2 separate regions of the Homo sapiens genome follow, and region 2 is linked to region 1. Evidence: fine-mapped QTL for protein levels in blood plasma. Region 1 holds a variant in brackets. A gene starts in the other region. All regions are shown on their forward strands.

Region 1 (2,896 bases):
ATCATTATTATTATTATTTTTTGAGACGGAGTTTCACTCTTGTTGCCCAGGCTGGAGTGTAATGGCATGATCTCAGCTCACTGCAACCTCTGCCTCCTGGGCTCAAGTGATTCTCCTGCTTCAGCCTCCCAAGTAGCTGGGATTACAGACGCCCGCCACCACGCCTGGCTAATTTTTTGTATTTTTAGTAGAGATGGGGTTTCACCATGTTGGCCAGGCTGGTCTTAAACTCCTGATCTCAGGTGATCCACCCGCCTCGGCCTCCCAAAGTGCTGGGATTACAGGCATGAGCCACCGTGCCC[G/A]GCCTATTATTTTTTGAGACAGAGTCTCCCTCTGTTGCCCAGGCTAGAGTGCAGTGGCGTGATCTCTGCTCACTACAACCTCCTCTGCTGCCCAAGTGCCCTCAGCCTCTTGAGTAGCTGGGATTACTGGTGTGCGCCACCATGCCCAACTAATTTTTGTATTTTTAGTAGAGACAGGGTTTCACCATGTTGGCCAGGCTGGTCTTGAACTCCTGACCTCAGGTGATCTGCCTGCCTCAGCCTCCCAAAGCGCTGGGATTACTGGCATGAGCCACCGCGCCTGGCCTATTACTATTTTTTGAGACGGAGTCTCGCTCTGTTGCCCAGGCTGAAGTGCAGTGGTGTGATCATGGCTCACTGCAGCCGCAGCCTCCCAGGCTCAAGCAACCCTCCTGCCTCAGCCTCTTGAGTAGCTGGGATGACCGGTGTGTCACCACACCTGGCTAATTTTTAAATTTTTAATAAGAGATGGGGTCTCACTTTGTTGCCCAGGCTGGCCTCAAACTCCTGGGCTCAAGTGATCCTCCCACCTCGGCCACTCAAAGAGGTGGGATTACAGGAATGAGCCACCGCACCCAGCCTACAATTATTATTTTTAGCATGAAAGACCTGGGAGAGCCTGCCTGCTTTTGGTGAGGAGGGGTGACAGCTCTCTGGTGCCTGAGGAGGGAGACAGGGCCCTGGGGAAGGACAGATGAACAGACGAACGGACAAGCTCAGTCTCCGCAGGCCCTTGCCCACACCCTCTGCCGAGCACTCACTGAAGCTTCTGTAGCTCGCACACCAGCTCTGTCTTCTGCTCAGGGGCCATGCGGGCAAAGACAGTGCCCTGGACCAGGACCTGGGAGCACAGGGAGATGGGGGAGGGCTGAGGCACCCACCAGGGAGAGCGAGCCGTGAGGAAGGAGACAGAGCAGGGGAGGCGCAGGGCGGCCAGGGAGCTGGGGGCGGCCCTACCTTGGGCAGCAGCTTGGGGAAGTGCTTCACAATGATACCAAAGGTGGGCCCGCTGAGGGCCAGGTGCCTGGATCGGGGGTCTGGCTCCACGGTGTAGCTTGCAGCCTGGTCAGGATCCTGGGGGCCCAGGAAGCTCAGCTTAGCTCCCCCTGCCCACCCTGGAGAGTTGGGGCCTGGGTCAGGTGACACAGGGGTGGGGTCACTGGGTGAGGTACAGCTGGAACTCTGGGTTAGCCTCACCTTAACGCCATTCACGGCTGTGGGGGACTCCATCGGCAGGAACTCGAGAGAGGCAGGCTGACCCCGCTCAGGGTGGGTGGCGTGGACGATGATCAGATGCTCCTGGGGGGCCACCATGCCACAGCCCCGGGCCACAGTCACCGCTGTCTGCAGGTTGTCCCCTGGGGGTTATGGGGCAAGGTGAGGGTCTGAGGCTATCCGGGGAGGCCATCCTCATCCTGATCCTTACAGATGGGAAAACAGGCTGGATGAAATCCGTCTGCCACCACCAGCCAAGTGAGCTGAGGCAGGTTACCAACATCCCTTTGCCTCAGTTTTCTCATCTGTAGATCCAGGCATTGAAGGGTCTTAGGAGAACCTGGAGCCGTGGGCTGGAGCTCCACATATACTCCTTTTTTTTCTTTTTTTAAGACAAGAGTCTCTCTCTGTGGCCCAGGCTGGAGTGCAGTGGCTTGATCTCGGCTCACTGCAACCTCCTTCCTCCTGGGCTCAAGCAATTCTCCTGCCTCAGCCTCTTGAGTAGCTGGGATTACAGGAGGGTGCGACCACACCAGGCTAATTTTTTTTGCATTTTTAGTAGAGATGGGGTTTCACCATGTTGGCCAGTCTGGTCTTGAACTCCTGGCCTCAGGTGATCCCCCTGCCTCGGCCTCCCGGAGTGCTGGGATTACAGGCACGAGCCATGTGCCCAGGCTACATATACTCCTTACTGCTGTGTGACTCTGCTGCCAAGTGCCCATGAATGTGTGTGCACATATGTGTGTGTGCAGGGGCGGGGAGGACAAGGACACAGACCTCTTAGCTCCTGCTGTCTCACCCTAGCTAGAATCTTTTTTTTTTTGAGACTGGGTCTCTCTCTGTTGCCCAGGCTGGAGTGAAATGGCGTGATCTCAGCTCACTGCAACCTCCACCTCCCGGGTTGAAGTGATTCTCCTGCCTCAGCCTCCCGAGTAGCTGGGATTACAGGCATCCACCACCATACCTGGCTAATTTTTTGTATTTTTAGTAGAGACGGGGTTTCACTATGTTGGCCAGGTTGGTCTCGAACTCCTGACCTCAAGTGATCCGCCCGCGTCGGCCTCCCAAAGTGCTGGGATTACAGGCGTGAGACACTGTGCCCGGCCATTTTCGTATTCTTTGTAGAGACGGAGTTTTGCCATGTTGCCCAGGTTGGTCTTGAACTCCAGGGTTCAAGACATCCTTCTCCTTTGGCCTCCCAAAGTGCTGGGATTACAGGCATGAAGTACCGTGCCCGGCCAGAATCTTTCTCTTCCTGCTCCTTGAGCTTGTCACAGCCTCTGAGGCTGACATCATTATCCCCATTTCTCAGAGGTGCCACCTGGAACCCAGGCTGTCTGACAGCGCACATGGGTTCCTTGGAAGTCACTCCACTCCTC
Region 2 (2,896 bases), not on the chromosome of region 1:
GATCAAATCTTCCAATCCCGATTTTGGAACCTCGGGGCTGTTTCCCGAAGTACTAAAGACAGAGGGACGAGGGTATGAGAGCGGCGCCCTCTCCTCTCGCCTGCACGCCCCTCCACAAATGAGCCCTGGCTCCCCTCTGTACCCTCCAAACTTCCCTCTCCCATGCTCACCCCGTGAGCCGCCCTCGCGGCGGGGTTGGGGGCGCAGCCCCAGACCGCTGTGGGGTCCCCAGGCGTGGGAGAGCCGGCGCGGCCCGGGTCCGGGGTGCTGGTTGCTGCTGGCCCAGGGGAGTGCTTCTCCGGGTCTGCGCAGGTGGCTGGACACGCCGCGACTGCTGCGCGCGGGACGGCCTCCTGGCCTCCGCCTCGGTGGGCCTCCTGGGGCTCCCCCAGCCCGGCTGGGCCCGCTCCACGGGCTGCAAGCCCGCGACAGGCGCGTCCTGCTCCCGGAACAGACTGTACACCTTGGCTGCAGCCGCTGCCGGGTAGCTGCCCCCAGGGCGCCGCAGTCGATTCGCGTCTCCACCAGCCGGCTCGTATCTCCCTACGGGGTCCCTTTGGGCATGACCCGCGCCCACGAAGAGAGCCAGGGTGAGCGGCAGGAAGCCTCTCCAGGGGTTCCGCAGGGCGCGCCCCGGGCTGCGGGCTTTGGTCCGCGGCCTCATGGCGCGGGGCGGCTGGAGAGTGGTGCGCGCGGGCACCGCGAAGAGCTTTGTGGTCGGCACGCTGGACGCCCGCGGGCTGTTCTCCCGGCCCCGCCCGGCGGCCAGCTTCTCTGAGTCTAGGGGGCCCTGAAGCGGCCGACTGGGGGCCCGGCTCTCGGCGGAACGAGGGCTGCGCGCCCCGAGCCTCGAGTCCGCGCTCCTACTCCAGCTGGGCTCGCACGGCTGCTGCACCTTCGCGCCTCCTCCCTGTGCCTGCAGCCGTCTGAAGGGGACCCGGACGGTTTTATTTTTGGAAACCTCCCCCGGCTTTTTCGTCTCTTTTATCCACACCAGGCCCCCTCCTCGGAGGGACAGCTCAGCCCCCTCATTACCGGAGAGGGAGCGAGGAATTCCAGCAACACCCACTTTGGCACCGGGAAGCCAGCGGGCGGCGAGCGGGCGGCGAGGGGGATTAACCCGTGCGGAGCAGGGGGCGGCGCGGGGCTGACCCAGGCGCTGGTCGGGCAGATGGCGCCTGCCACGACCGGGACACTGGGCCGCCTTTCTCCTGCTCTGGGCAAGTTCGAACTGCAGACCTGCCCCGAATCGTTCTCCCGCCCCTCGCCTCAGGGACCGTCTTTGGATCGGGGGACCCAGGCTGCAGCCTTGCAGGTCTGAAGGAAGCCGGGAGGGGCGCCGAGGCCCGCGTAGGGGAACAGGGCCGCCGCCCCCTCCGCTTGCGCCCTGGCCGCTGGGGGCGCCCTCCGCAGGGCCGGCCGGAGCGGGGGTGGCGCGGGGCGGGGCGCGGCGCGCGGAGCGCAGGGAGGTCCCGGGCGCGCCCCCTGGCGGAGCTGGCGGCCCTGGCGCTCCGTGGCTGCAATGCCCTGGCGCCGCCGCCTTCGCTCTGGATCTCAATCCCCTTCCACTGGCGTGAGGGTCACGCCTGAGCCTGGCGCGGTGATGGCTGCCGGTAGAAGAGGGGTCCTCTTTTTCTTTTTCTTTTTCTTTTCTTTCTTTCTTTCTTTCTTTTTTTTGAGACGGAGTTTCGCTCTTGTTGCCCAGGCTGGAGTGCAATGGTGCGATCTCAGCTCCCCGCAACCTCCGCCTCCCGGGTTCAAGCGATTCCCCTGCCTCAGCCTCCCTAGTAGCTGGGATTACAGGCATGCGCCACCAAGTCTGACTAATTTTGTATATTATTTTATTTTTTAGTACAGACGGGGTTTCTCCATGTTGGTCAGGCTGGTCTCGAACTCCCAACCTCAGGTGATCCGCCCGCCTCGGCCTCCCAAAGTGCTGGGATTAAAGGCGTGAGCCACCACGCCCGGCCAAGGGGTCCTCTTTTTCACCGAGGCAAAGACACGGAGCCTCTTGAGTAAGTCACTCAAGGAGATAGCGCATGTGAAAGAGGGGAGTGGAATCTAGGCCTCCCGCCTCTGGCTGAATCCATTCCCGGGATCCCACCCAGCCCTTCACTCTCTCGGGAATTTCCCAGAGGGGGATTCGGTGACCCCGATTGACCCAGTGTGTGCATTCACATCTTGTGTTAGCAGGGAGGCGGGCAGGGGTGTGGGAATGCTGACTGCCGCTGTCTGCGTGTCCCCAGTAATCAGCACACCATTCTCACCCATGCTCCCTCCCTACAGCCTAAAGGCTTGGATCAACAGGGCTGCCCCTGGCACATTTGTACAGCCTATTTCCCAGAGAGGCAGAGTGAAGGAGCTGGCATGTGGGCACCAGTTCACAACCTCCCACACCACACAAAAGACAAGCCCAGGTAATATCTACTGTTGAAATAAAGCCTCGACCCCTGGCCTTGGCCTACAAACCCTAGCTGGCTGCCCCCGCTCTGATTTCATCTGGCCTCTTGCTCTCCCTTACCCACCACACTGTGCTGCCTTGGCCCTCTCTCTGCTCCTTGAACAAGCCAAGTGAATGCCCCCTTCCCTCTACTGGAAGGTTCCTCTCCAGGATGTTAGAGGGTAGTTCCTCATCACTGCTCCTCTCAGATTAAATATCAGCTCCTGGAGTAGCCATCCCTGACCTCCAATCTAGAGCAGCCCTCCCTCACCCCAGTCATGACTCTAACACACCACCCTGTTTCATCTTCATAAAACAGTTGACATCATCTTGTTATTGATTTGTTTGCTCGTGTAACTGAATTTTTTAATGGGCTGAACCTAAAGAGGGACTATCCAGAAACTGCTCCACTACTACCTTCAACCATATTATGGTAAATTTCCCTTTCCCACCCTT

Alleles and levels. Alleles are on the strand shown, and positions count from the first base shown. The strength of an association depends on the size of the effect and on how common the allele is.
For the plasma level of the protein whose gene starts at base 957 in region 2, allele A in region 1 goes with a higher level than allele G (weak association).

The links. PIP is the chance, under the fine-mapping model, that this variant and not a neighbour inherited with it causes the effect. The UK Biobank Pharma Proteomics Project read protein levels with antibody pairs (Olink). The fine-mapping took linkage between variants from a reference panel, not from the people measured, so its PIPs are less certain.
Region 2: LTBP2 starts here. The variant in region 1 is fine-mapped to the plasma level of the LTBP2 protein (UK Biobank, PIP 0.96).

Annotation. Positions count from the first base shown.
Region 1 is chr1:16,988,628-16,991,523 of GRCh38, forward strand. It overlaps ATP13A2 (ATPase cation transporting 13A2), which reads right to left. Exons shown (of 29, transcript NM_022089.4): 21 at 1,500-1,660; 22 at 1,260-1,376; 23 at 1,064-1,143. Among named protein-coding and RNA genes, the nearest start is that of MFAP2, 9.5 kb to the left of the region's middle. The variant G/A (reference allele first, on the strand shown) is at 303.
Region 2 is chr14:74,611,281-74,614,176 of GRCh38, forward strand. It overlaps LTBP2 (latent transforming growth factor beta binding protein 2), which reads right to left and starts at 957. Exons shown (of 36, transcript NM_000428.3): 1 at 171-957. The coding sequence starts at 664. It overlaps LOC101928352 (a long non-coding RNA gene), which reads left to right and starts at 1,905. Exons shown (of 2, transcript XR_944029.4): 1 at 1,905-2,015; 2 at 2,287-2,768. RefSeq lists an enhancer at 1,013-1,640 and a silencer at 1,268-1,587.